Linked DNA regions of Homo sapiens. The protein of the gene in region 3 interacts with the protein of the main gene of each other region in a pairwise test. Each region holds a gene or a part of one and is shown on either strand. Other genes may lie near its edges.

Region 1 (7,975 bases), on a different chromosome or scaffold from region 3:
AGGAGGAGACACAGTTGGTCACTTTCTCCCTGAAAAACTCTTTACTTGGCCTTCAGTACTCCATACTCGCTTCTTTTTCCTCCTACCTTCAAAAGCCTCTCCTTTGTAATTATTCATCTCTCCAATATCTGAATGTGGAAAGCCCTAGAGCTCAATTCTCATTTCCTTACACTAGATCTCATAGGCTCATGGCTTTAAATACTACCCTTCTGTGCAGGGGTAGCCAATCTTTTGGCTTTCCTGGGCCACAGTGGAATAACTGTCTTGGGGCACACATATAACGATAGCTGATGAGCTTAAAAAAAAATACAATCAATCTCATAATGTTTTAAGTAAGTTTACAAATTTGGGTTGCACAAGCTTGCATTAGTGACTTCCCAAATTTCTATTTCCAGTTGGACCTTTCTCTTCAACTCCCGTCTCTATAACCCCACTTGAACAGGCATCTCAAACCTGACTAAAACTGGCTCCACCTACCTTCACACTCAGTCTTCTCCATCTCAGTACACTGTTTAACTAAAGCCTTCCAATAGCTCAGGCCAAAGGCCACAGGGTCGTGCTTCACCCTTTCTCTCATAAGCACATCCAAACCATAAGCAAATCCTATCAGCAATACTCAGAATACGACGGCTTCTTACTGCCTCTCTTACTACCCACCTGGTCTAAGCCACCATTCTCTCTGGCTTCAATTACTGCATCAACCTAACAGGTCTCCCTGCTTCCATCCTTGCCCTTACAGTCAACACTGAACACAGCAGCCAGAGTGATCCTTTAAAAACCTTAAGCCAGATCCCCTCATTCCTCTGCTCAAAACCCTCCAAACACCTCCCTTCTCACTCAGAGTAAAAGCAAAAGTCCTTACCTGGGCCCATTAGCTCTCTGACCTTGTCTCACCCTCCTTCCCTCCAGGTGCTCAAATCTACTGGCCTCCTTGCTGTTCCTCTCTTGCTGTCCCTCTAACAAGACTGAAGGGTTCTGGGCTTTTGCCCTTGCTTGGTATGCTCTTTCCCTAGACAGCTGCATGGCGGTCCCCAACGCCTTCAGTTTTGCTTGAGTCTTTTCCATGGCACCAGTCCTTATTTTAAAACTGCACCTGTTCCTTCCTTGGTGCTTCCTATCCCCCTTTGCTACTTTATTTTTATTCCTAGTAACTGTTACCATCTGACTCCAGATACGTTAACTTTCACAAATCCCGCTTATCGTCCCCAACCCCACCTTCCTCCAGTGACATGTTAGCTCCTGGAAGACAAGGACTTCATTTTGTTCACTCTCACATCCCCCAGTGCTTAGAACAGAGCCTGGCCATAGAAGGCACTCAATATACGCTTGCTATATGAATGCCGAATATGCAAATTCTTAAATCTATAATAGGTAAGGCTAAGAAGTTTGGGACTATAAAGCCCAACTTATTTCCACAATGGGAAATACAATTTCCCTTTTGATAAAGAACTGTGAGAATCCTTTGTTTTCCATAGTAACACAATTTATATAACATGCCAAAAATTCCTTATCACTTCACATCCTCTCTCCAGTGCCTTTCCTGTATTCTGTAAAATATTAACTTACTATCATCAAAAAATCTTTGATTTCCCTCTGGTACTGCTACCATAATAATGCAAAGGCAAAGTGAACTCACTAAAAAATGGTATGGAAACATAAATAATGAAGAAATGTAATAAAGTGTGTTAACAACCAAACAAATTCATCTCTATTTCAAATCAAATTGTACTGGCACAGTGAGAACCCCAGTCCAAGTTTAACTTTATTATCACTATAGTCCTTAATGAGCTAACAGTTTTCTTACTAAACTCCTTTTAAACTAAAAAGGAGTTCATGTAGGACTCCTGCATATAACCATGAAAACTAAGCCTGAGAGAAATCAGTTCAGGCTACAAATCTAATTGATAAAACTCTTAGACAGCGCTACATGTTTGGCTAGATAACAGACGCAGGGATACTGAAGTAAGGGAGATGAGACCAAATCTCGCTCAGCCTTTGCTAGCTTTCTGACCTTGGAGAAGTCAGACTCTCGGTGCCTCAGTTTCCTTATCTGTATAATGGAAATGGTACCTGATAGGGTTGCTTCAAGGATTAAAGGTACCAGGTATTTAAAGCAATGGCACCGTGTCTGACATAAAATAAGCACTGAAAATAGCTATTACTAGAACATAAAAATAATCCCCACACCACTCATATTACAGCTCTTTAAGAGGCTCCTAGGTACCACCGTCATTTTTTAAAGATTGAGAAGCGCTACTATTCAATGGCATATTTTTACCTTATTATGTTCTGTAGCCAATTCCGAATACCGTGGAACGTTACAAAAAACAGATGTTATTTTCTTGAGGTACTGTTGGGAAAACCTCAGAGAGAACGATCTGCTTTTTAGCACTGCAAGCCAATTAAGGGAGGAAGTTTGCGATTACCCGAGCCCTAAGTGGAAGGTGTGCAAATCCTTCCTTTTAACCCGGGCACCCCGGAGCCATGTGCCATTCTGGAGAGCTCACTCACACCCCAACAGCTTGTCCCGGCGCCTGAACTGTGCGCTCCTGCAAGCACACGCCGCGAAAGCACCGTCTCGCCCCGGCCGAGCAGCTGGACCTGCGGCGTGGCTTCCGCGCTCCACCCCCCGATTAACCGCGAGCCAGGGCTGCCCGCGCTGCCCAGGGGTTCCCCGGACCACAGCCCTAACCCGCAAGCGCAAACGAGAACCCTCGCAGGCCTCTGCCCGGCCCTCGTGAACACACAGACCGCGAAGAAGCCATCACGGACCCGCGGTCGCTTCCTCGGCCCGGCTCCCTCCAGTCGCCGCGGAAGGTGTGGGAAGCCCGGGCACCCTCGCCCCTCAGGGCCCCGGCCAGGCCTACTGGACCTCCAGTGCTACAGGGACGGTGCAGGAGATATCAAGTGGCTCTAGCCCAGGCGCTGCCCACAGGCCCCGGGCCAAGTACCTGCGACTCGAACGAGCAGCAGCGACAGCGGCAGCTTCAAGGAGGCGGTGACGGGCGGAGGGGAGGGGCCAGACAGGGGTAGTCGGAGTCCCCGCTGGGCCAGAGCGGTCTCGCGCTGCAGCCCCCGGCGCGCCCCCTGCAGGTGGGCGGTCCTCACGGTGGCTCGGGCTGCTCTGAGTCAGAGACTCCGGGAAAGCCTGCTCTGAATTAGGGAAAGCATCAAAACTGTGGCTTCAGAAGAGAAAGACAGCCTAGAAGAGGTTTATCCGATCTGAGTCCGGGAGCATTTTGCACTTTTCACGTCCTATTCTAAATTCACATCCCATCCCCTTAGCTAAATGGGGGCTTCAAAGGCAAGGGCAGTTTCATTAGGTGCTATAAGCATCAATTAATAGTTGCTGGCCTCTAGGTAGGTCTTCTATAGACCCGAAATTGACATATTAGGAATAGCCACTAATGATTGGCTGCACTATTTCTAAAATATAACCCTGCATTTTTACTTTTTTCAAAAGCAGTTTGAATCTTTTTTTTTTTTTTTTTTTTTAGACGGAGTCTCACTCTGTCGCCCAGGCTGGAGTGCAGTTGCTCAACCTCGGCTCACTGCAAACTCCAACTCCGCCTTCCGGGTTCAAGCGATTCGCAGTTTGAATCCTTCCATCCTACTTTGTAGGGTTCCTTGACTTATTGCAACATGTACAGCCAAGACTAACTAAAAGTGTGGTGGGACATTCATATGCTGGAAACATTCTTTCATGCAAAACTAGTTTTTTCTTTTTTTCATTTTACCAACTCCAGTCCTACAGCCAAGACAACTCTCACTGCACAGTGACCGTCCTCTGAATTCTAGCACCCTCATCCAACCAAGCCACGCTCTATGGCAAACTTGTCCAACCCCTGGCCCACACCTGCAGGCTGCATGCAGCCAAGACAGTTTAGAATGCAGCCCAACACAAATTAATAAACTCTCTTAAAACATTATGAGTTTTTTTTTTTTTGCAATTTTTTTTTAGCTCATCAACAATTGCTGGTGTTAGTGTATTTTATGTGTGGCCCAAGACAATTCTTCTTCCAATGTGGCCCAGGGAAGCCAAAAGATTGGACACCCCTGCTCTAGGGTATCTCATGGTTCATTCATTCAAGGACCACCTACACCATCTAATAATTTGTTCTTGAAAGTGTCATGTAAAGGTTTAGGACTATTGTCATATTAGAGGAAATCACTATTACATTTCTTTCATGTAAGAATTATAAGATCTGGCCATGCACGGTGGCTCACACCTGTAATCCCAGCACTTTGGGATGCTGGGGTGGACAGATCACTTGAGGTCAGGAGTTCGAGACCAGCCGGACCAACATGGTGAAACCTTGGCTCTACAAAAATACAAAAATTAGCCAGGCACGGTGTTGCACACCTGTAATCCCAGCTACTCAGGAGGCTGAGGCACAAGAATCCTTGAACCCCAAAAGGCGGAGGTCACAATGAGCCGAGATCTCACCACTGCACTCCAGCCTGGGTGACAGAACAAGACTCCATCTCAAAAAAAAAAAAGTTATAAGATCTTAGGGCATTTCACATTTTATTGTGCTATGACTAATCAGCAATATTACTTGTTAAATTGATGACATTTATTAATCAGTTTGTTATTGATGTCCTCCTTCTGGTTGTGTATTGAGTTTATAATATCTTCACTGATGCCTATAAACTATGACAAATTAGCAAGGAAATTAAAGCTTTTCCCAATGTATTAATAAGATTTACTCTTCATTAGTTGACTCATCCAACAATCTGAGAGCCTCTCCATTACTTCTATTCAAATTTATCTCTTCCTCTTCATGAATTACTGCTTTTGATTGATATGAAAAAATGTAGGGATGGTGAAGACAGCTTTTTTCTCTGATGAGATTAAAGTGAACTGCATGCTGCACATATTCTATGGCTCCTTCATGTTACCACACCTGGGCACTTTGACACAGTGGCTGTTAGGAGCTGATATGGTTTGGCTGTGTCCCTGCCCAAAATCTCATCTTGAATTATAATAATACCCATATGTCAAGGGCAGGACCAGGTGAAGATAATTGAATCATGGGGGCAGTTTCCCCTATGCTGTTCTCATGAGAGCGCGTGAGTTCTCATGAGATCTGATGGTTTTATAAGGGGCTTCTCCTTTTGCTCAGCACTCATTCTGTCTCCTACCACCCTGTCAAGAAGTGCCTTCTGCCATGATTGTAAGTTTCCTAAGGCTGCCCCAGCCATGCAGAATTGTGATTCAACTGTGAGTCAATCACACGTCTTTTCTTATAAATTACTCAGTCTTAGGTGTTTCTTCATAGCAGTGTGAGAATGGACTAATACAGGAGCATTTGCAGAAGCCATTCCTACTCTCCAGCAATAAGTTAATAGTGCATGGAAGTGACCACGAACCACATGAACGTCTCCCATTAAATGCAAACCAAAGTACCCCCAGCTGCATTTCTGTTTAGCTGGATCCCAAAAATGCCTGTAGTCACTCCAATGTTAGCCAGTAGAAGAATACTCCGGAAGTCTCAGTGGAAAGAGAGAAATCTTAATCAATTGTAGGTAAAGTATTTTAATTTTGCAAGCTTTACAAAAACATATAACCATATCAGCACTGCTTCCCAGGGCCTTGGAAGGGGCCTGAACAAGGGAGGGCTATATATTGGTTTCCTATTGTCATTGTAACAAATTACCCTAAATTTAATACTTTAAAACAAGGATTATTTTACAGTTCAAGAGGTGAGAAGTCCAAAATCAGTTTCGCTGAGCTAAAATCAAAGTGCGGGAAGTGCTTTCCTTCTGGAGATTCTCAGGGGAGTTGGTTGCCATGCCTTCTCCAGCTCCTAGAGGCCACCTACGTCCCTGGCTCATGGCTCCTTTTTCCATCCTCAAAGCTAGCAGTGTAGAGCATTTTTACACCCCTCTGACTTCTGCTTCTGTCCTTGCATTTCCTCTGTGACTCTCCTGTCTCCTTATAAGGACCCTTGTGATTATATTGGGCACACTTGGATAATCCAGAATAATCTCCCTATCTCAAGATCTTTCACTTAATCACATTTGCAAAGTTCTTTTTACCATGCAAAGCAACATATTCATAGATTCTGGGGATTAGGATTAGGATGTGGACATCTTTGAGGATCTGTTATCCAGCCTACCACAAGAGCCCTGAAGCTTAAACTTTACACTCTTCAGGTAAGTCTGCCTCTTCTTCCTCATTACTAAAATCTATCTGGTCCTGAGTTTTGATCGTGAGAGTTCCAATGGCGGAGGAATACCTGTAATTACAACCGAGATAAGTGTCATGAAGCGAAAGAGAAAGGATTCCTTGAGGGCAAACAATATGGGAGCTAATTTAGATAGAAGGGCAACAATGTCTTTGAATAAGTGATATTTAATCTAAGATGCAAAGCATGAGGAATTAATTATGTAATGAACAAGGGAAGTATTCTAGACAGAGGAGACGGTATGTTTGGCCTGTGAATCCTGATGGCAGAAAGCTATCACCTTCTGTGGCAGTGTCTCTACCACTGAATCCTTAGCACCACCACGGTGACTGGCACATCAGACATGTTTGGGAATATTAGCTTAGTAGTTTTCAACCTGGCAGCATGTTACAATCATGCAGCAGCTTAAAAAATAACAGTGCCAGCCGGGCGCGGCATCTCACGCCTGTAATCCCAGCACTTTGTGAGGCCGAGGCGGGTGGATCATGAGATCAGGAGTTCAAGACCAGCCTGGCCAAGATGGTGAAACCCCATCCCTACTAAAGATACGAACATTAGCCGGGCGTGGTGGTGGGTGCCTGTAATCCCAGCTACTTGGGAGGCTGAGGCATAGACTTGCTTGAACTTGGGAGCCAGAGGTTGCCATGAGCCAAGATCGTGCCACTGCCCTCCAGCCTGGGCCACAGAGCAAGACTCTGTCTAAAAAAAAAAAAAAAACAGGGCCTGGGCCCTAGCCAAGATCAAGTTAGAATCATCTGGAAGCACGGCCCAGGCATCTGCATTTTTAAAAGCTGCTCAGGGAACTCTAATGTGCAGCCAGGATTGAGTTGAGAATCGCTGTATTAGATACAATTGAGTGAATGAATGAATAAGTGAAAGGAAATATTTGCTTTGGGTAGGCTTTTCATTTAGAAAGTTTTCTTATTAGGGATAAGAAGGGTTTTGACTATATTCGTTATATAAATTCCTATCCAGTCTTAAAAAATGCAGACAGACTTTCAAAAATATTATACTTGAATGCTCATCAGAAGAGACTGAAAGTGATCTAGCAACTATCCCAATGTAACTAGCTGTCTCTGTAGAAAGGCGATATGGTCAGAATGGGGAGGTGTTTGAAAAAAATACACCGCACCTACGAAGTAAGTGTTTTGAGCTCTGCTTTCCTGTTCCAGGGTGCATTTGGTTTCTGTAGTACTGACGAATGACCATGAGAGGGAGACATGCTCCTGACAGGTGTTGCTTCCGTGGGTCTCCCATCTCTCAAGCCCGGCTAGCACGAATCAGGTGTTTTCCACAACACTGTGGGTTCTCAGGCATAACAATGGAATGAGTAAGTACAGGAGATGAGACAAGTAGCACATATTTATCTACACCAAAGTTAGGGTCATTTCCGTTCCCCAACAATTTTAAACATTTAAACAACCAGAAAAAAAAAAATGAAGTGTTTTGTGTGCCGGACATATTTGCGAAACTATTAGAGAAAAAATTTGAAGCCAGGAGAATAATATTTTCCTAGAGCAACTGGCACAACTAAAAAATATTCAAGAAAAACTTTCAGAAAGGGATCTCTTTTCTTAATTGCAAAGTAAAATCTTAGATGTCCTTGGGTTTCTGAAGTTACTAAGATAACAGTTGGACTCTTGGAAAGAAAAAAAACGATCTCAGCTCCTTGCCATAACATCCATTTGTCATTTCTCTTTCCACTTACCTACACATGCCAGAACCACACAGATTGTCACACACACACACAAGGCAAAATATGATGGAATGTACATTTAGGCAAG
Region 2 (7,020 bases), on a different chromosome or scaffold from region 3:
AATTCACTACAGGTTTTTTGTTACTTTTAAAGGGAATATGGATAAGCATAGTAACAAAACCCACCAGAATCTAAGCAGTTTTCACCCCCTCAGAAACCACTGTCATTAGTTTACAAAGTTAGCACTTTGAAGTAAAACTAAATGAGGAAGGAAGTAATGTTACCTATCCTTGATACCATGACCATTTATTAGATGTTTTGCTATATAAATTACCGAGAGAATAGTTTGTCATCCACTTAGTGTGTTAGCTGGTGGGGTACAATATAACCTCTCATCTCAGGCTATTTTAAAAAAACAATATTTGCTTCTATAACAAAAGGAAACAAATCTAAGAATCATTCCTGTACTACAGAAGGGTTAAGGCAAAGGTAGCCTTTTGGGCTTTTTAATGAATATGACCCCTATAGAAAAGTCAAGAAAAAAAAACCCTTGTATAAATTATTTTATTTATTATTGTAATTAGATCTTCACAAAGTTGTCTTTTCACTGTGTTTTGTCAACGTGAAATTAAATTGTAGTTATAAGCAAAAGTTGGTTGCCTAGGGAACAATTGTATATTCAGTTTAACAGAAATAAAAGAATATTTGTCTTAAGATGCAAGATTTGTTTTTACATAGCCTTTTGCCATACAATTATAAAAATTTCATTTCAAAAGTGAAATTTTTTTGTGCTGTTTTAGCTTTAAGGGTTGGAATGTTTAGGTGCAACATCAGCTCCTTAAAGAAAAAGCAAAGTGATCTAGGATATGTCTCCCTTGCAAGAGGGAATTAACATTTACAATTAACATGAAAATCATGTATCAGACTTCTGCAGGAGATTCTTCAGCATACCTTATCCAAAAATTACTCACTGTCCTAATGTATCATTTTGAAGAGTCCTGGTAAGTACTTCTCCTTGGCAGCCTCACCTTCCCACATCATGGAAGTACAGGTTTGCACATATACACAACATGATGATAGAAAATATGATATAGTAAATTAGCTTTCTAAATTTCGGTTCTAAGTCTCCTTGTCGATACCAGTAGATCTAAAAGAAGAATTAAAGTTTATAAATTAAAATTTGAAATATAACATTTTCTCTACCAATTTCAAATTTCATTAGTATTTGTTTATTCCCCTAAATGAGACAGACATTCTCCATATTCTGAGGTCTCTACATTCCTGAGATCAGTACAGCCAGAATTTAATTCTTACTCTGAGTTTCCACATCCAAGATCATACTTATTCCTACTTTCTCAGTTTACTTTCCTCTATATTCACACCTGTATACTCCACCAGTCATCTGGCAAGCTATCCAAGAACATATACCTGGGCATACTACTTAACAGGAAAGGAAGACAACATTTAGACTCATGATTCATACAGTTGGTTCAGACCGTAAAATAGGGCTTCCATAATATATTTGGATTAAACTAGTTCATTGTCTGTTAGTCACTTTAGGCTTCAAGCTAGGGGAACAGGAAAGCTCCCAAAGTGGGATGGGCTAGTTCTTCTTCGGGTCATGGGAGTATATAGCAGGATCAGTGAATGAGAACACTTGGAGGTGTCTCCTGGTTTAATTAATTTTAACTCAGATAAGCAAATTACTATTGTTTTTTCTTTTGATTCTGCCTCTAAAGGAACATGAAACAATGTAGCCAACTAATGAATGAACACTGAGGAGCCACCACCATCTTTGTTTCTTCACCATAAAAGAAACATTTGCAGTAAATCAAACATTTTTACAACAACTGCAGCTTTAGATTTCCCAGGAGGTTTTGGTGTTAATACCTCCATTTTGGGAAACAAACATGTAGATTAAACTAATTTTGTAATAATTAGAATTAAATCCAGAGTGCTCTATCTCTTCCCTTAGCAGTAACTGGCATTTCCCAAAGACTGTTGGCCCTTACGTAGTCCTTGAGTGAAGATGAATTAAGTAAATTAAAATCTTTGGCCACCTACGTCTTTCCACTAATTTTTTTTTTTTTTTTTTTTTTTTTTTTAAGCTATCAAGGGAGTGGAATTTCTCTTTGGGGTTACAACTTTGGGATTTAGGAGAAAAGGAGAAGACTCAGATTTTATTGAGAATTCTAACATACTTTTAGGGGGAGGATGAGGATATAATTAAGAGATACCCTTTTGTATAGACCCAAGGCTGAAAATTTTTGTCCTGTGCATTGCAACTTAAACCCTCAAGAACACTGTTTAAATTCTCAACAGTACTTACAAGTATGCAGGCAGTAATACTACTCAAAGAGATGCAGACAGCAAAGAATATATTCAACGGTTTTGGAGGTAGTTGAGGGAAAACAAAAGCACTTATCAGCGTTACCTGTATGAAGAGAAATTATGTAAGGCCTTAACAGTAATTCCAAGACTTGGTAATTACCAACTGGAGTCTAGGCAACAGTACTACAAAATGCTTCATGTTATAAAATTACATCTGCCACCAAGTTTGCTTTCTAGAATGTTAATACAGTAATTATAAATATGTTCGAGTTATTTTAGTACTTCTTTTCTAAACTTTCCCTTACTTATGAAAGGAGAGAAAACATCAGTAATACTAGCTGATGCCAAAATAACTTCATTAACTAAACCTCACTCCCAGGATTAATGATTCTGCTGGTAAAAGTTCTAGCCATTTTGTTATTTTAAATATTTCTAGCAAAATGAATATAATCAAAGCTGGTTTTGCTATAACATTATGAAACACACTGAAAGACTTCTAATGTTGTATAGTTCTGTTTCTAACAGATGCAGCATTATATGCAATCTTTTCATTAAGAAGCCATGGAAAAAAATTCTCTTAAATTTAATGTGCCAGAAAAATGTCAAACTATGGAAAATACAGCTTTTAAAAATTTTATTGTAATAGCTCCCAGATGTATACTGTATACAGGATGTATACAGTACAACTACTATACACTGTGACCAAATCTTTTAAAACTTGACCAAAGGGTAATGGATATGTTCTTCAGGAACAAAATAGAAATGGGGAATTATGGTAGATGACAGAAGGAAGTGGCTACTAGCCACTGACATTTTTACAAATTTACTAGGCAAAACATGGTAAACTCAATTATCTTAAAACGAAGTTGTCTGACTTGTACCATTTCACATATTCAACCTGGGGGTGGGGCAGAATTAAATTAGCTACTCCAATTAGCAACTGCAATTTTGTGGTAATAAAATTAAAAGCACTTATTTAGCTTTTTTTGGAAAGTTAACCATAATTGATAAAGTTTTCAAAACTGGCTAAGAGCCTGGGTGAGGCACAAAATGAGGATACTTACTAGAATCAATAAGGATGTTAAGCTGCCAACAACTAAATTGATGATTCGATCCTGAAAGAGAAAAGAATTTTTAAGCCATATGACTTGGATCCATGTTACCTTCAGTATAGTACAATGCAAGGCATTTGGATGGTTTACTATAAAGAAACCCAAGATCCAGTCCTCTGAGCTTTACACATAAAACTACCAGACAAAGCAAAGTGTACTGAACCATAAGAGTGGAAAATGTACTTTGGGAAAATGGCCAACTGGGGAAGGTTTCTTGAAGGGACAGAACATTTATACTAGAGTCTTGATTGGGTAGTATCAAATGGGTAAGGGAGGCTTACAAATAATGCATGTGCTGCTGAGGATAGCATAAGCCAAAGGAGAAGGACAGGCACTGCAGGAATGGCCAGGCCAGAGCATTGGTTAAAGGTATCAGGAACCGGACTAGATGTAGAGTACCATGATGTGTCTGGAACTATATTTGTAATACAGCTTAGGTATCCTTGTCTAGTCTAAAAATAGATGCTACTGTTAAAAGGGATGGGTCCTAGAGTGCCAAGGCTTGGCACTTGCAATCTTAAGAGACCATCCAGTCCAGTAGTTTTTCCAAGTTATTTAATAGTGAAGGGCTTTAGTATATAAACAAAATATTGGTTGAATGAAGAACCTACCTACTGAGCTTTCTTGTCATTCCCATCCCACCCCAACCAACAAAGAATGTTTGAAAAACTGATCCAATCCTAATTTTACAGGTTAAACTAAATTTAGGCCCAGTGTGGTTAAATTATTTTCTAAGAGTCATAACAAGTTAGAAGCAATTTTGAAACCAGAGATTCCTAAATCCAGGTCACTGGTTAGAAGTAGTTTCAGGTACTACTAAAAAGGTAAAGTATGATAGTGACATGCAGTCTTATTTCTGAGAAGTCAAAGCTGAGTCTTTAACGAATCAGTCGTCTTAAATGTTGTTTTGATAATGGTCTGAGCAGAGAATGGCAGGATATGGAACATGCCGCCAATAAACAAAACCTCAGAGATGGGAAGGACACAGGAACAATCACAGAGCAGCAACCGAATTCTCATTTCCAAGTAGTCGCCTTTTAAGGATAAGAACCCACAGAAGTTAAGAGTCAGGCAAAATTGGGAGGGAAAGAGTAAGAAAGCCAAGTATTGGATGTGTGTGATCTAACCAAGGACAAATCACAACTCTCCAGACCAAGGCCACTGCAACTGAAAGGTTACAGAACAAAAGATACTGGACTCCAGCCACACCCTAACTCCAGAGGACTCAGAAGAGATCTTACCACGACCTCAGCTAGAGAAGCCTACACAGCACACAGGAGCCTGAACTTAGGACCACTTTGTTAGGAAAGGGACCCAGGGACAAGTCACCACTCACTTTAACTTCTTCCCACATGGGACAACATAAAATGTGTAGAGAGACAAAATCCATGGGAGCCCCACTATTTTTGAGAAGCAAGAATATCTGCTGCTCTCTGAGCGCCAGGGATTTCCAAAATGAAGCACTGCATACCTCATAACAGCTCCCACCAATAGAAGTCAAGCCAATATATCACTAATTGCCAAATGACACACAGCAAGTTGCCTACCAGGATCAAAGTAGGAGAAAAATAATGGTAAAAGGATATTAACTATGCCAAGCACATTCACCAATCCTCTCTTTAAAAATTCTAGGATGAAATGGTAATATGACTGTTTCACAGGTAGCAAAACAGGCTCAGGGAAACTGAGAACTTTCCCAAGATCTCAATACCATTAAGTGATAAAGACAAGATTCAGTGCCAGGCCTCCTTTCCCTATTTATGCTTCTCACCCAAAGAACAACCTAGAGTGCTAGTGCTGGTCTAGACAAAGATGTCAAGTGGCAGATGACACCTCAAAAAGCCTATTAGCAAAGTACTACACTGTGCTTACCTTTCAAGAATGATTTCCTCATGGGTGACTTTGTTCCACATTTTTGGATTTCTCCATATAACTGATTTTAATCATCCTGATGAAAATATATCTAAACTTTAATGAATACTTTCCTGCCTACCTTTTAGATAGTCACTGAACAGAATTCCAACAGATTTTCATGAATATCAGTTATTGTTATAATGTAGTGGTCCCCTCTGGGATTCCCAAGATGGGATGAACTATTTCGGACATGGCAGAAGTGTTTCTCAGAATATTTTCTTTCTCCAAGCCAAGGCCTTCTATCAACCATGAATTCAGGTATGCAGAGTTAACTTCAGAAGCCCTCCTACTTCTAATGCTCTCTGTTTTAAACTTGCTACTCAAAGTGTAGTCTATGAACCAGCACATCGGCCTCACCTGAGAGAACTGCAAGAAATGCAGAATCTTAGGCCTCACTGAGACCAACTGAATCAGAATCTGCGTTTTAACAGGATCTGGTAATTTATGTGCACATTTAAAATGGAGAGGCTGTGCTCTAAAGTTTAGTCTAAAATAAGCCATTTTTAAATATTAAGTTCAAATCACAGGGTACAGCTCCTTCCCTGGGCCTAGAGATTATTTTTCAGGGTTTTAGCAGCTCTTCTAGCTCCCAATCTCCAAAGAGGATAATAGAGAATAATTAAATAGCTAGTTAATTAACACTTCAAAGGACAGTTTGGGGAATAATATGCTCCAAATTGGAGCTAGAGTACATGGAGAAAAGTGAGTAATACATTTAAACTTTGCTGTTTATGGAGTAAATTGAAACTCATTATTTCTACTTCTACAGCTAGTCTCTATTAACTCAATTATTTCTCACAGAAACTAGCTCTGTCTCCTCCCCAGTTTTATTTTCACTCTAGTTCTACCTACCATAACTTGTCTCTCCTACCAGAATTTTAAACCTTGTACTGTGGCTTATTTTCACTCCACAAGGAAGCTTGACAGGACAAAGGATGGCAATTAGCCTGGATCCTTGCCTGCTGAGAGGACAGGATACAGATTTAGGATTTCCTTCCCAGAGACAAAATATTCTGCAACAGGTTTAGAGATAGTCTGAATTCATATATACATGAACATAAAGACAGACGTTGTGTGCATACATACATGTATATATATAGTTGAGATTTCACCTATATCATCTTGTAAGTCATATATTTATGCATTTAAACATTATCTACTATAATTCAGATGCAAATACAAAAGTGAATAAAAACATCTCTACCTTCCAGAAGTTTACACTATCCAGAGTTCAGGAGGGCACTAAGAAGACAGAAAGTGAGCTATCTTGGACAGTCAAGGAGAGACTACCAGAGAAGTCAAAACCCTGAGGAAGACTAGCAGATGAAAAGGAAAGGAAAGATGGTTCATGAAAGGAATTCCACAAAGACCCATGGGAGAACAAAAGCATTGCTGTTACAAAAAATCAATGGGACAAATGGAGATTGTTGACCAAGTTTCATGAGAGCTGAGAGGAAAAGAGCTGGAATGCAATGCACAGTGAAGAGCCTGGGCCTGACGGATTCATGTCTTTGTCTTCCTTTAGAATGAGGAAGGAGAAAAAGATGGAGATATATGCAACTGGTTTGTATCTGGAATGGTGGAAAGCAAGTAAGGAGTGTTATCTCTATTTACCAATGGGTAACTAGGTTCCAGAAGACTGACTTGCCAAAGGTCACACGGCTAGGTAATGGCAAAAAATCTCCTATCCAATGCTGTTCACAAAAGACAAGTGTAATGAACAGTTCAAAAGGTCTAACAGTCCTAAAACTAATAAATACAGACCTTAACACGGTCTAGAAACC
Region 3 (7,825 bases):
CTGGAATCAACTAAATGCTTGCCTAGAACCAAGTATTTTTCTGATGTCTTGGGTTTTTAAAAGTAAGTCCTTGAAATACAGCTGGTTTCTTTCCTCTATCATGGTGAGTTTATTTCCCCTCAGGCTCTTTTTATCTTCTCCTACCCTGAAACCAGATTGCTCTTCAGTAATAGGAATATGAGAGCAGGGTGAAAAGGCATTCCCCATTAACACTTGGAATTTATTACCAGATTTCTTGGACCAAAGTTTGTTGATATCCATGAAGACAGATATGTTAGAGTAGTAAGTGAAGGAAATCACAACTCAGACAATACTCAATTAAGAGTGACAAAACTTTTCTTGGTATAGCCAAGCCAGGAAAAACGGGCAGAACCACCATGGTTTGGCCCTCTTATCACTATATGCTTGAATGTATGACTAAAAGTGTGGGATATGGCCTTGAAACATGGCTATGTGAAGAGAGACTGGGCTAATGGCTTTGACCGGTAAAGAATACAGATTGGGTGTACATATTGGGTCACACCAAAACAATGAATATCCAATGTAAGTAATTTGTAGTTGTCATTCTTAGGAAAGGAGTAGCATATGTACCTTAGAAATATGCATCAGGGGTTGCAAAGCTGAGAAGGCATTCTGATATATGATTCTGGTGGAGGTGGTGGCGGGTGAACCTAACTTATTCCCAGCATTCAATATGCCTAGTTGAAAATCATTATAATAAATTTAGTAAGAGACAAATAGCAAACTGGGAAAATATATTTGCAACATATGCAGACAAACTGTTAATAACTTTATTATAAGAAGATGTCTTATAAATCAATAAGAAAAAGTAGACACAACTAATGGAAAATGTCTAAAGAATTCAAACAGGCAATTCCTGAAAGAAGGCTAAAATTGCAATAAACATGATAATCTGTCAAGCAACAATGAAATATCAATCTTTACCTCTCAGACTGGTAATGATTACAAAGCATACATTCAGTAAAGAGAATGGGGTGGGGAAATGAGCACCTTTTCATAAATTTTGGTGGAATTGTGAATTGGTACATTTCTGGAGGTTAAGTGGGCACGATGTGTCAAAATTTGTAAACTTAAAACCCTTTGACCAGGTACAGTGGCTCACACCTGTACTCCCAGCACTTTGGGAGGCCAAGGCAGGCAGATCACATGACACCAGGAGTTTGAGACTAGCCTACCTAACATGGTGAAACCCTGTCTCTAATAAAAATACAAAAATTAGCTGGGTGTGATGGCACACACCCGTAATCCCACCTACTCGGGAGGCTGGGGCATGAGAATCCCTTGAACCCGAGAGGCAGAGGTTGCAGTGAGCCGAGACTGGGCCACTGCACTCCAGCTTGGGCGAGACAGTGGGATGCCGTCTCAAAACAAAAACAACCACCTCTCCACCCCTAAAAAAAGTCCCAAACCTTTGACCCAGAAATTTCCCTTGTAAATATTTATGCTAAGAGTTATTAAACAAGTGCACAAAATTGCATATTGTGGATACTAATAGCCCAATTGATACAGTAGTTCAAATTTGAAACAATCTAAATGCTAATCTATAGGGTAAATGGCTACATAAATGAGTGTGTATCCATATAATGGAATATTAAGTACTTGGTATTACGTTGAAAAGTATTCCTGATGTATTAAATTTTTAAAAAAGCAGATTATAGAGTAGCATTATTTTAAAAAACCATCTGTGTTAAGAAAAAAAGGCTTATATAGGCATGTAAAATTTATTTAGAATGGGAGACAAAATTATAGGGGGGATTTTCATTTTGTTTCTTTTTTTGTTATTTTATCTGTGCTAATGTATTATCAGGATAATCTATGTCCATTTAAATAAAATAAAAATAATTCATACAAGCTAACAAAAAGGTAAACATCTTTAAAAGTTTGAATGAAACATATCTCGTGGAAAACATTGTAATTCCAAGTTAGTCAAGCACCTGTGTTATATGATGGCTATAACGTGGGGGAGGAGTAATGAGCAGAATAAAACAAAAGACTGGAACTAATAGTAGTTAGTGTTATCAACAATTTTCTCCATTTTCTCTAAGTAGCATCCATGTAGCAAAATTTACTTCTAGAAGATTCAAAGTCTTTCTCTACAACTCTTTAATTAGGTTATTTCTTTTTACTCCTGACTCAACAGGCTTCCAGGTTCACTTTTCTTTGAAAGCAGAGGTTGCTGACAATATTACCAACATGGAAAGGTGGACTAGGAAAAAAAAGATGGATAGCTTGATTTATGTTGCTAACCTTGTATGGACTGTAGGACATTTAAAAATATTTTGTACTGGGTGTGGTGGCTCACTCCTGTAATCCCAGTGGTTTTGAAGGCCAAGGCAGGAGGATTGCTTGCAGGCAGGAATTTGAGACCAGCCGGGGCAACACAGCCAGTCCTCCTTCTCTATCAGCTATTTAGGAGGCTGAGGCAGGAGGATGAGGCAGGAGGATAGCTCGAGCCCAGGAATTCGATGTTGCACTAACCTATGATTACACCACTGCAATCCAGCCTAGCTGATAGAGTGAGACCCTGTTTCTAAAAAGAAAAAAATATTGCTATTTTATACAAAAAAATTTATGATAAAATGTCCTCTCCTTTAGGTTTTGTAGGTAACTGTATCCTATTTGCATTTGATCCACATGAAAGAACTCTGTTCTCAAAGTTTGCAGATGCTGTTGTTGCTTGTATTTGCTTTTACTCTGTTATGATGCTACCAAGATTTTGGTTAGATGGCTGTTATTCTAGGTGGCAGACATGCGGGTTTCCCTCCCTTTGCACAACTAAACAAGGTAGGCTTTGGTTCTGGGCAGTCACTGGTATTTACAAACCACTTATTCATGCCAGGTAATAGGGTTCCAGATTGGGTAAGTTTTATGTTCTGGTTCTTGGTATATGTTTAGACAGCTTATAAATGTAAATAAACATTCTACTCTTACAGGTGGAGTGTGGACACGGTGATATCCGTGTGACCGCCATTCCCAGCTGAAGGTTATCTCATCTATGATTTTCTTATACGTGACTGGCACCCCCTAGTGAATAGGGACTTAAGTTGACCTCCACGGTAGAAGAAATACCAGGGAAATACCTGAAGCTGTTTTAACAATTTCTCCTTGTATTAAGTATTATGCTGCAGTTTTGCGTGTGTGAATGGAAGTATGGGTAGAGATCTGTTCTCCCTAAAAACTCCAGGATTCCACAATATAGAAATAGTAATCAAATTTTTAGGTGAAGCTCGAACTAATCCGAACTTTGTTAGATCATCACTGTAAATGAATGGGTATTTATCCACTCCCTAAATGAAGAGACTTGACTGGATTTCTTTTTTTTATATAGCTACTAGAATCTGTTACACATAATTTAGGATTGAGACTTGAGAAATTGTCATTCCAATCCAGAAAACTTTAGATTTGCAAATATATTTGACAAATTAATAAATTAACATTTTATTTGGTTAATTTCAAGAATAGGGCATTTAAAGAAGTCTGTGTTTGCTTTAGTTCGGCAATAAAGTTCCTGCCACTCACAATAATCCTTATTATTCTCTGAAAGACATGTTATATTTTTGTCATCATAAATATTTATTAATTACTGTTTATAGCACTGGGTTAGGTACTCATCAAGCAACCAAAAATAATTCTTACCATCTAGGATGCTTCCAATATAAAATATAGACAATATATAACCAGGTCAATTGGGAAATAGATCATTTCAGTATGATAAAAGATAGTATTCACATTAACAGTGTGAAAGGGCAGGAACAATAAGACACTTGACTCACTGGTCTTTAAAATGTAGCATCCAAAATGAGCAAGTGGAGAAAAGGTTAAACAAGTAGGTGACACATTTAAAAAACAAGTAGATGAAAGGACTATTCTCAAAAATCTTGTTTTATGTGAGAAACCATCAAATTATGAATTCCAAGTACTGTATTTTTTTTACTTTTCAAGGGTAGGCTCTCCTATACCTTATCTAAACAATTTTTCAAAATAGCCACAATTACTTTGTTTTCCTCTCTACACTAAATTGCCCTTTGCCTCTTGAGCGATTATCTTTTTCAGATTCACCTCAACTTCTTCAGGTTCAAGCGGACTTCACCTGTAAGCCCCTCTCGGTTCTCCCTCTTCTCTGAACTACTAATGGCCTAATTTAGCACAATTATATTGCTTTGTTCATTCCATGTATAGTAAAAGAGTCTACAAAACACATGCAAGCATTCATGCAATTATATGTTGATTTGTTCATGGGTCGACCCCAAAGTCTATTCTCCATCGCTGAAGCATGGAAGACAAATACCCTTCACTTCTTCAGAGGCATAACACATGCACTTCTCTTGTCATGGTGACAGGCATGTGCTGGTGGAGGTCAAAGAAACAGGAACACAAGTGAAATCGAGGTGAGTGTCAGGTAAGGACCAAAGCACCACGCCTACCTCATCTTTGCCCACAGAACACCCATTCTTCCCGTGTCCTGTTTCCCAGGACGTATCCGGGGCGGATAAGAAATCACCCGTGGGGAGGCGGTGAACTCCTCCGCAGGGGCCGATGCCCGGGACAGGGGCGGGGAAGGCTAATGAGGCGACTTGTGCGGGGAGGGGCCAAGGAGGAGCCCAGGTGTCCCGCTCCCGCTCGACGGCGCGCGCCTGCGCGAGCCCAGTTGGCGTCGCACCCTTGAGCGCAGCATCCCTACGCCAGCGAGTCCCAATACTAGGGAGGGAGGGAGGGAGGAGGGGCGGCCGGCCCCCCGCCCCCGCGCGCGGCCACGTGACGCCGGCTGAGGAGATTGGAGGGGCGGCTGCGCGAGGCTGCAGACTGGTGCAGCGCACTGTGCTGGCGGCTGGGCCTCCTCCACCTCCTCGTCTTTCTCCCGGGAACCTTGACGACGCCTTCCGCTTGGCCCTGCCTTCTGCCGCATCCCCGCCGCCGCGGCGCCTTGAGGAGCAGGAGAAGACGCAGCCGGGCCGCCGCCGTTAGAGGGGTTCCCGGCCGCCGCTCGCCCCGTCGGCCGCCACCGCCTCCGGGGTCAGCCCTCTCTCTGGGTCTCCGCTTTCTCCTGCCGCCAGCGCCCGCTCATCGCCGCGATGGGGCTCCTGGACTCGGAGCCGGGTAGTGTCCTAAACGTAGTGTCCACGGCACTCAACGACACGGTAGAGTTCTACCGCTGGACCTGGTCCATCGCAGGTAAAGCCGCTGACTTCCCCATCCTCGCTCGGTCCCCCGCGGGGGGTCACCGGCCCCTGGTCTCGCAGCTCCCGGGCCCGGCCCCACAGGCCCCCGCGCCCTGCGGCTTTCGGATGCTGCGGATCAGCGGAGGGGCCGGCGCGGGCACTGCGGTTGAGCACTGGTTAATCTGATCCGAATGTTAAGGCCTCCCCTCCCCCGACACTCGCAGGGTTTTCTTCTGAGCTCCCTCCATCTCTCATCAGCTCTCGGATGCGGGAGCTGACATATCAGATGGAGCCTGTGCAGCCAGGAGCTCCTCGCAGGAGCCGCCCCACCCTGTGCTCCCACATCTCCCGAGCTCGCCTCCCTCTTCCCCGTGCACAGGATTCCTTTTAACATTTAGTCCTATTTTGTATGGAGAGCGGGCTGGGGAGGAAGGAGGGCTTCAGGGGCAGCTGAAGGTACAGGAGGTTTCTTCAGCCTCCTGGTCGCTTTGACAGAACCCTGCTAATCTTTTCTTCTATCTAGCTCCTTCATCTATAGTATAATTCGGACTGAAAAGTAAAATAATATTGTTTGGCTCCTTGAACCTTGAAGAATGTTAGTTTCCGAGGCATTTTCAACAGCAAATATGTTTGAAGTGATTGTCTATAATGGCTTTGCGCACTGCAGTGCAGTCAGGGGGAGGGGGAGGCCAAAACACCGGGGAAGAAATCAGTCTTTAGGAAGGGGGTCTCTACAGCAACACCTAGAGGTTGTCCCAGATGCCTACATATATACAGTTCTTAAATCAGCAAACTTTTCTTTAGCTGTTGCAGTTAATTTGGCAGGGCTGTCAATTGTTTGATTTATGCAGCTTTCCTAGCGTCCAACTGTGATATTATATTTTTACATTGTACTGTTTATTTCTTCATTTGCTTCGCTGCTTTTGATTTTAAAGCATTTAAAAGTCTTTGAAATCTAAAATAAGGTTTAAAGGATTTCAGAAATGATTTTACGAGGTCAATTTTTCTGGTCCTTTTGCAGTATCACACTGCATCCTATCAGTGAAGGATATTAACGTTCCATCTTATGACTCTGCCTTCCCTACTTCGAAATGAAAATGTACTCCTGTAGTTTTTGTGTTCATTGTTGTTAGAGGAAATTAGACAGTGGTTACAGCATGAATGTAGTCCGATACATAGGGCTTATGTTTTGGGAAAAACGTATGCTGGAATTATTTTTGTGAGAGACAAAATGATTATTTGGCATTAATACTGCATTCACTTCTTTAGAAAAGTATGTTCTTTTTCAGAAGATCTCAACTTTGACACTGGGAAATAAGCTATTTAATAAGCCATTACAGCTGAAAATGGTTAAAAGGCAGTTTTCAATGGAGTGTTTCTTCAGTTTTTTTTTTTGTTTCTATGCGCTATTACACTGATGTTACACTGTACCTGCAAAAACTGGGAAAGATGTGCCCTTCCCTTCACGTCTGTGATTTCGGTTCTTTAAACGTTGCATCAGGGCTTCCCATTACACAATTGTATAGAGCTGAACATCAGACAAGTTCTTTAGCAGGTAATTGCACTTCGCACACCTAGGAGTCAGACACTGTTGAGATACTCCAGTCTCCATATAGCCAGAGCCACACCCAGGAGTTCTCGGTCCTGTCATTCCTATCCTATCCCGGAGCTTTCCCATCTCTTGAGTCTCAGAAGGAAAAATTGAGGGCAAAGGTAGAATACACCTTTCTGTGATGGTGAATTCCTTCCTGATGATGTTTGTGTAAAAGAAACCACACACACACAAATGAAACAGGAAATTTTGTGCAGTTGCCGCATGTGAAAGCTTGCTACTAGGCTTCGAAGGGCATATAAAATAATATAATATTGTGGGCCAAGCCTGAGAAGTGAGAGTAGCCTTAGAACACAAGTGACCTCTCACTAGCAGGCCGAAGGAAGGTATTTGCCTATGCTTTGACTATCCACTTACGAAACCTGAGACTGCTTCCTTGCTTTCTGTAATGAGCTACCTTATGTAGGCAGATGGTATTTCTTAACCAACAGAGAGGCTTAGTGGATATAGTCTGTTCTGCTGTACTGCTGTGTGAGGAGGAGTATTTTTCAGGTCCAGGCCGAATAGACCTGAAGTCTGTGGTGTCCCATTTACGTTTACTCTCCCTCATTCTATGCCCCTCGTGTTCCTTTTTTTTTTTTTTTTTTTTTTTTGGACTCATTCACTCTGCTCTGATTCCACCTCTCAGCATAATTTGATGAAAATCTGGGTGGGGGATATCAAAATAGAAAAGTAGCTTATAAGATGAGGTTAAACAAAAGTTGGTGAGTCAAATGTTTGGAAAGAAGGGGAAACAGAAATGGGCGGGATAGAAAGATGGTCTTGAGAAATAGTGATGAGTGTGGTGAAAGGATGCAAATTATTGAGGGAGAGCAAGAAATGAGGTAGGCTCCTTGTCCTTGGCTGCTCTCATTCCTAGTGCTGTAGTTACATGCTTCTTTCATTCTTTTATTAATTCATTAAATGCCATTTTGTGCTATTATATCAAATGGTGCTTTAAATATCCAAACATATCCAAAGCAATGTCTGAAAACTGGGCTTTTCAGAGGCACATATGTAGCAAATACAAAATATGGTCCATAATAATGTTAAC
Region 4 (7,955 bases), on a different chromosome or scaffold from region 3:
CATTCAGTTAAATTAGACTTTCAGACAAACAATGAGCAATTTCTCAGTATAAGTATGACCCATCCAGTATTTCGGATATACTTAAATGATTATTCATTGTTTATCTGAAAGTCAAATTTAATTGAGTTGAGCATCATGTATTTTATCTGACAACCCTACTTGCCTGGGCGTGATATTTCAAAGAGCAGAGGAATGGGGGGCTTTGGGGACTTCCCATTTAGTGATTTCAGCAAGGGGAACCTAACACCTGCTTTTGTTGTTGGCAGCCCTTGAGGCAACTGCTTCAAGCACAATGCTTAAGGCAGTGTTCCAGTGCTGGTGTAGGCTGACCAACTTGTTTTGGTTTTCCCAGGCCGTACCCATTTTTAGCACTGAAAGTCCCACATCTTGGGATCTCTTCGTTCCTGGCAAACCGGGATGATTGGTGATTGGTCACCCTAGTGATAGACATACCCAGAGGTGCTGGTGGAGATGTTAGAAGACAACAAATACACAAAGAAACTGCTAGGTGTGTCTCAAAGAGTCTCAACATTTCTTCAAAGCACATATCCTTGGCTCCATTTTAAAGATAGGCAGGTTCAGGGGAAGTATAGGAATCCTGGATCTGAAAGGTGTTGGTTCTAGAGATCACTAAAGTTCAGCCTCTATTTTTTAAATGCTTATCAAACATTTGCAGAGATACTCTGTCACCCCATCTGGTGATTATTATTATTATTGTTATTATACTTGAGCATAGGCACTATGGTAAGAATTTTATGTTCAGTATCTTGTGTAATCTTTTTTTTTTTTTTTTTTTGAGATCTGTCGGAGCGCAGTGGCACCATCTCGCCTCACTGTAACCTCTGCCTTCCAGGTTCAAGCACTTCTTGTGCCTCAACCTCCCGAGCAGCTGGAATTACAGGCATGCACCACCATGCCTGGCTAATTTTTATAGTTTTAGTAGAGACAGGGTTTCACCATGTTGACTAGTTACTGACTAATTTGGAACCCCACTGATCCTACAAACTGCCGGAAGTTTGCCTCTGCCCTGGGTTTCAAATAGCGGCCTCCTACTTAACCTGAGAAGTGTAGAAGGTTGAAAACTTGGGCTACAGCAGCCCGAAGCCTGTCCATCCTCCCCCAGCCCCCGGCTGTTGTTGCTCAGGGCAAAGGCTCTCTATTCACACATTTTTTCACAGCAGAACAACCTCCCAAGCAACTTCCAAGCAATAAGAGTCTGGAGACAGGCATTCTCTAGAGATGGCTCTGGTCTTTGCTTGCTAGGTGCCATTGGGAAAATTGTCTCAGTATCCCATCAGTCAAATTGAACAAATAACATTGGTTCCCCAGAAATAATACTAGTTTTATTTCTACTTTGCTCAGAAATCACATCAAACAAGCATCCTCCCTGCAGGGGCAACCCTGCAAAAGCTGGCCAAGTTTTTATGTTGGTGGAGGTGGGTTCTGTGGACAGCTTGTTTCTTCACATTGCTAGTAGCTATGTGGTGCTCCTCAGGCATTCTTTAGCTGAGATTTTTCATGTGATTATTTTGGCTTCCAGGCTACTCTTTACTCCATCCCAAGCCACGGGCATCTCCCCCTCACAAATACACCCCATGGCCTGCCCCTATCCATCCTCCCATTGTTCCTTGAACCTTCAGGAAAGGCAGAAGATCACCCTCCACTCTCTACCCCTGTCTGCCAGCTCAAAGTATGTGACATCTCTGGCCCTCAGCCCTCGGTTCTCTTGGCCAGAAAGGCATAGTCTAGCCAATCGGCATGAAGTTGGGTGTGGAAAGTTCTAGCCACAGTACATAGGACATAATATACTGCCTGCCTGCCAGCCAGCCAGTCTTCTATGCCAGGGCTAGGAAAGCTGCCTTCCAAAATTTGGTCTGGGAAGACATTATCCTGGGAATGAGAAGCAAAGCCTCAGCTCTAGAAGCCCAAATAATAGCAGATGACCCAGGCTTTCACTGGTACGCGCTTCTCTCTTCCCCTTTATGTTCTTCTCTGTGCTCAGGGAGAAGTTGGCCACTAGATTGGGCACTTGATCCCTTATCTAGTTTTTCCTGGGAGAAATTCACTGGACTTCTCTGAGTTTTAGAGTTCAGTCTACACAATGAAGCAAGGAGAACCCACTTGATCTGTGGCCTTCAATAATCTGATACTATGGGATCATAGAGCAGAGAGTGGAGGTAATATTCAAGTGTTTTCGAGTTATTTGCAAGAAAGCTGCACAGTCAAACCAAGCCATGATCAAGGGGGCCCAGATTCTCTGAGGTACCATCAGAATTGCATGAAGCAAACTGTTTACGAGTTTTATACAATCCTGCATTGTTCCCACAGGCACCCAGTACAGGCAGCAGGCTGCACCAAGAAGGCTGGCAGTGCCTCTTGAGGAATCCCTTGGCAGTGCAGGAGCCTAGCTGGACTCAAGAATATTTTGCCAAGGGCACCCAGCAGAACCAATGGAAGCAGAATCACAGAAATAGGTGGGGGTATGTAGATAAAAATGGGCTCTGGAGGACCTGGGAAGATACCCTATGAGGTCTGTAGGGAGCCCTCAGGAAAGGTCTGCTGACGAGGTACTGAGGCAGAGTGTCGGGATGTACAGAGCAATGAGAACACACTAGATTCTAGGGAGTTGGGAACCTTAAGGCACTGGGATGAGTGAGACACGGTCACCTGGCTGGGTCCCTTTTCTGGCCCTGGGCATAAGAACAAGCATAAGAACAAGGCGAAGACAGGGAATGTGGAGAGAGAAAAAGGAAACAGAGACAGACACATAGAGAGAAACAGAGACAGAGACAGGTAACAGAGACAAAGAGATTGAGACTTGGGGAGAGGATAGAATGAATATTAAGGCAATGGAGATGGAAGAAAGGAGAAGAGAAATGTGTGTTAAGGGAATGTGGTTGATAAATTGGTATCTGTGGGTTTATTGGGAACACATATTTTCTTTCCAGTAGAGTTGCTGTCCCCAGAGCTGCTGCTGAGAACTCAGGGGAAGCTTTGTGAGAGGGCTCAGTCTGAGTGATGTCCCCTGTGTGGAGAGCTGTCTCATCTATTCGAGCTGTGAAGGATCATTTGCCTCATCCTCTAAATCTGAACTCCCAAAGTTTGGGCTCACTCCTGCCATCTGATGAGCTGAGGAGACACATTTGGCGATTTCTTGCTCTTGGTCCTCCCCCTTCTCCAGGGCCATTCCGACAGTGACCATCCAGAAGTTTATTGCTGGCTCAATCCTACAGTTGAGCTTCCAAAGCAGGCATAGTCTGTGGCTGGCGAGCAGGGCTGGGGAGGGCGAGGGGCTCTAGGACCCTTTTCCATCAGTCACATGGCCTTAGTCTCGTCTGCTCTGGAAAGCTACTATTATACCGTTTTGCAAGGGGCAGCATTTCCAGAGATCCTTTTTTCTTGGGGCTGATACAAGAGCAAAGGATCTAGAGTTCTAGTACTCTAAGCAAGCCTCAAACGGTGCAGGATTTGGCCCCAGTGGGCCCACAGGGGCATCTGCCAAAGACTCGTCCATTTCCTAACAGCAGAGCCCAAGCCAGTAACATGTCCAAAGTCACAGCCCAAAGAGAAAACTGTAAGACACAATCTTGCCTTTCTCCCACCCCAGGAAGGTACTAGTCTCTGCTCAGTATCTCCCTCCTCTTCTCTCCTCTCCCAAGGCAAAATCACAGGAAAAGTTCCAGGAGACCATACCTTCCTTCTCCGGAGTCTTCCAACAGGTGCCCCTCTTATTATATGCCAGCCAGTTGTTTTAAAGGCCATCCATGGGAGGACACCGGCCTCTAGGTCAAGGGAGCTGTGAAGGGAGACAGGACTGACAAGGAGCCCAGACAGACACTGTTTAAGATTCACCTGTTCTAGAAAACCTTCCCAGGCTGATCCCATCTAGCAGTGGGCATTTAAATACCTTCACAGTCTTTAGAAATAGCTTATTGCTAAGGCAGGTTTTATATAGTATTTCCCTGTTTTTGCTGCTTAGCCATTTTTGTCTTACCGCTTCTTTCTCTGTGGCAAGGACTATATTTCGTTTCTTCTCTCCACCCTCACTGCCACCTGCTGCTTCACTCTAACCCACTCCCTGCCTCTTGTCTGCCTGGCTTAAGCTCTCTGATGAAGATATTACACTCTCAGGATAGAATACTGACTACCTGATTCCCAGATCGTGTTCTTGACTTGTCTCGAAGTCGATTATCCTTCTTGGAAATCACCCACATCTTCAACGCTGGCCTTTTCTTTAACCTAGTCTGTGAACTTGCATAGGTCTTGCCCACTTCTGGGTCTTTATTATTGTAGCTATAAAATTATTACAATTCTAGCCTCCCCCAGCCTAATCACAATCTGTTCATCGAATTGACAGCCTGCATTTTGTCTTCATGCAGTTGAAACTGAGAAGGATTTGGAGGAAATTATCTTAAAAGACAATTTTTTCTTCTCTATTGTGTTCGTAGAGCTGGGGGTGGGGGTGGGGGAGGAACGCTTATTTTCCAAGGAATCGGGAGGGGAAAGGTGGAGAGGGCCAAGGGCAGCTAGGAGTGATGTGGGGAGCTGGAGCAGATTCGGAAGGACTTTGGGAGCTAATATCTAGGTTTTTGACTCTGAGCCCCTGTTGGGGCTCTCACTTCATGGCTTCTCACGCTTGTGCTGCATATCCCACACCAATTAGACCCAAGGATCAGTTGGAAGTTTCCAGGACATCTTCATTTTATTTCCACCCTCAATCCACATTTCCAGATGTCTCTGCAGCAAAGCGAAATTCCAGGCAAGCCTTAGGGAAAAAAGGAAAAACAAAGAAAATGAAACAATTGGCAGTGAAAGGCAGAAAGAGAAGATGGAGCCCTTAGAGAAGGGAGTATCCCTGAGTAGGTGGGGAAAAGGGGAGGAGAAGGGAGGAGGAGAGGAGGAGGAAAGCAGGCCTGTCCCTTTAAGGGGGTTGGCTGTCAATCAGAAAGCCCTTTTCATTGCAGGAGAAGAGGACAAAGATACTCAGAGAGAAAAAGTAAAAGACCGAAGAAGGAGGCTGGAGAGACCAGGATCCTTCCAGCTGAACAAAGTCAGCCACAAAGCAGACTAGCCAGCCGGCTACAATTGGAGTCAGAGTCCCAAAGACATGGGTAAGTTTCAAAAACTTTAGCATTGAAGATTCAAGAGGACACAGGAATTCACAAGAGAATTTCCAACTTTGGGGTTCGGGGGTTCCATGGTTTAAATGAGTCGTGTTTTGGCACTTGTTTTCTTTTTAAATTCCTTAACATTCAGTTAGATTAACTCCTTCTCCGCTGTACTAAGCATGATGCTTTATTACCAAAGAATTCCAGCAGCACGTGGAGAGTCCCACAGATCTCTGGAGAGAGTGCCCAGCTGGATGGATGTGGTCATGTGTCCTCCTACCCCCTCACTTCCCTCTATCTTCTCTTTTCCCTTGGTTCCAAGGCCCTGGCAACGGTTGGGTCAGCTTGCCCTCCTGGTTCTGCTGGAGGCCACTGAGCACTGTCTAGCCCTCAGATGTACAAAATAACTGCTTGCTTGATGCAAACTTTGAACCATGTTTGGCATTAATAGGAAGCTGGGGATCGGGCAAGCTGGACTCAGGCTTGGCTATGGCTGAGGAGGCCATTCTCAGGTTCAGGAAATGAAAGTAAAGTCCTCAATGGCTTGACCATGGGAAACAGATATGGGTAGGAGTGTGTGTGTGTATGTGCATATGTGCATGTGTGTGCACATATAGGGTTGATCATTTCTAGCAAATATCACAGACACAGCTTTCCTGAAGGCTCTTTGCTGTGACAAGGAGGATGCTGGGACATTAGGGCTCTTGCTAAGTTGGCTGAGTATTGAGGGCTTTTCTAGGTTCCGTGAACAAAGACAGAAGCTATGAAGTTCTGGTGGTAGTTTCTACTCAGAGTAATGTGTGCAGAGCACAAGGGTCTTTGTCCCTATTGGACTCCACAGAGTCCTGTAGACATTGCTAACATTTGGCAAAACAAAGATAGCAGCTTAAACACATCCTAAATGAAATGAGACTCAGTTGCCCCATGTATTCCCTATCAAATGTAGCATCCAGTAGACAACATCCACAGAGATCAATTTGCAATTATACTGAGCTGGTTCAGCCTTTAGGTTGTTTCATCATGAAACACAGAGAGAACACTTTGAAGCATGTGTTCAGGTAAAACAGGAGGGAGAGCACTGGACAGGGAGTCGGAAAAATCAGATTCAAATCCCAGATCTGCTACTTATGAACTATGTGACCTTGGACAGGTCACTGAATCACCACTTCCTCATCTGGAAAATGGGGACAGCAATAACTACTTTGTCTACTTTCAGGGTTGTGAGAATCAAGTAACAATAATGTCAAAGTCCTTTGAAAATGGGCAAGATCTATAACAACTGTAAATCATGATAATACCTACTATTAGACAATAATGTGTATACAGGCGAACTCTTCCTCTTTCCAGGGTGGTTGGGTTTTCTTTGCGTGCTTGGGTCAGAATCATTTGACCAATTATGTGTGACCAGATGAGAGGTGAATGTTGGAGGAACTCAATTCCTGCCCTGGGTAACATCAGGAATCCTATCTAATGTCAGCCGAGCTGACTGGATAGGTTGTGCATTAAAAACAGAGAGGGAGTAAAGAAGGATGTTGAATATTACTTCCTCAGGGGATGAAATCCCTGAGGAAAGGCAGGAACAAATAAAGTGACCACAGGGACAATTGCCTGTTATGGAGGCTGGGTGGTTTCCTCCAGAGGAAGAGTGCCACAGATAAGGGCACGATTGAGGATGCACATTGGGTCCCAGGTCCTAAGGGTGGACGATACTTGGGCCAGGTACATATGATGGAGCAGCCACTGAGTTTTCATTTATTCAATAACAGAGTATCTAAAGTACTTTGAATTATAGATCATCTCTAACAAGGTACTGGACTGCCACTACTTCTGATGTGGAGTGCACTGCTGTTCAACAATTGCAGTAAACACATTGTATCATGGAATCCGGGATTGGAAGGAACTTTAGAAGTTGTCTGAGCCAACCTTCAATGCGGGATTCATTTTTACAACAACCAATTAAATGTTCGTACAGCCTCTGCTTAATCACCTCCAGGAACAGGGAACTTACTACTTCAACCATATAGAATCCCTTAGGATTGGAAGCAAGGAGGAACACTGATTCAGTAGTGTCTGCACAAAAGATTTATGGGGAAAATGATAGCTCATTAATTTTTGCCTTGATTTGGAAGGGGAATGTTCCAAGTGAGTCTTTGGGATAATGATGGAACCAGAAAGGAGCAAAAGAGCAGTAGCTGATTATTCTCTGCTCTGAAACACAATGCCATTATTGAACAGCAAAACATTGTCTGCAAGCCTGTTGTCGTCTGAGAACAGTGGCTGTTACCCTGGTAACCAGACTGTGATGCCTCCATCCAAAAGTGGCTGTTTGCCAAGCAGTGTAGTTTTGGCTGGCTTGCAGTAAGTGGGTGTAGCCCAGGCAAAAAGTGTGGCGGCAGAGCGGGGGTCCAGTTTTATAAAATGCCCGAAGACTAACTGAGTCCCATCAAAATGGCAAGAATGCCCCAAGAATACCAGGAGCCAAAAATAAACCAGATCCCAGCCAGCATGTTCACCTAGTCTTCCTGGAGACACTGACTAAAATAATCAAGTGCAGCCTTCTCTACCTCACTTCTCCCTTTGGCCGTGCAGAGCCAGAGGAGTTCTTGGAAAGCCAGGCAGTTTGAAAGGTCTACCCTGCTTTAGGGGGCCTTGGGCTTGGCTCTGAGCTAGGAAAGCCAGAAGTTTACTTAACAGGCTGACAACTGGAACTGCTCTCTCAGAGCGATCTGAGTAATAACAACCTCAACCCTGGGAGGTGGGTGGGAGGGGAAATATAGTCTCCAAACCCATTAAGGTAGAACTCCAGCCAGTAACATCACTTTCCCCCATTGCTTTTGTCTATCGTCC

What was found.
Region 1: the proteins of ELOVL4 (region 3) and ANKRD46 interact in binary tests that used the Homo sapiens proteins (3 or more experiments, as listed by UniProt).
Region 2: the proteins of ELOVL4 (region 3) and TMEM243 interact in binary tests that used the Homo sapiens proteins (3 or more experiments, as listed by UniProt).
Region 4: the proteins of ELOVL4 (region 3) and PLP1 interact in binary tests that used the Homo sapiens proteins (3 or more experiments, as listed by UniProt).

The regions. Positions count from the first base shown.
Region 1 is NC_000008.11:100,556,760-100,564,734, forward strand, and holds the start of ANKRD46 (ankyrin repeat domain-containing protein 46), read right to left. Parts: upstream 3,001-7,975; 5' UTR 2,952-3,000; exon of another isoform or gene 2,279-2,951; intron 1-2,278.
Region 2 is NC_000007.14:87,195,733-87,202,752, forward strand, and holds the end of TMEM243 (transmembrane protein 243), read right to left. Parts: exon of another isoform or gene 6,448-7,020; intron 5,495-6,447; exon of another isoform or gene 3,326-5,494; coding exon 3,275-3,325; exon of another isoform or gene 2,314-3,274; coding exon 2,209-2,313; coding exon of another isoform or gene 2,083-2,208; exon of another isoform or gene 1,950-2,082; intron 1,027-1,949; coding exon 904-1,026; 3' UTR 428-903; downstream 1-427.
Region 3 is NC_000006.12:79,944,548-79,952,372, reverse strand, and holds the start of ELOVL4 (very long chain fatty acid elongase 4), read left to right. Parts: upstream 1-4,986; 5' UTR 4,987-5,093; coding exon 5,094-5,193; intron 5,194-7,825. Other genes in the region: uncharacterized protein LOC124901350, read left to right, coding at 4,558-4,986. UniProt on the Homo sapiens protein: Catalyzes the first and rate-limiting reaction of the four reactions that constitute the long-chain fatty acids elongation cycle.
Region 4 is NC_000023.11:103,771,889-103,779,843, forward strand, and holds the start of PLP1 (myelin proteolipid protein), read left to right. Parts: upstream 1-4,951; 5' UTR 4,952-5,107; coding exon 5,108-5,111; intron 5,112-7,955.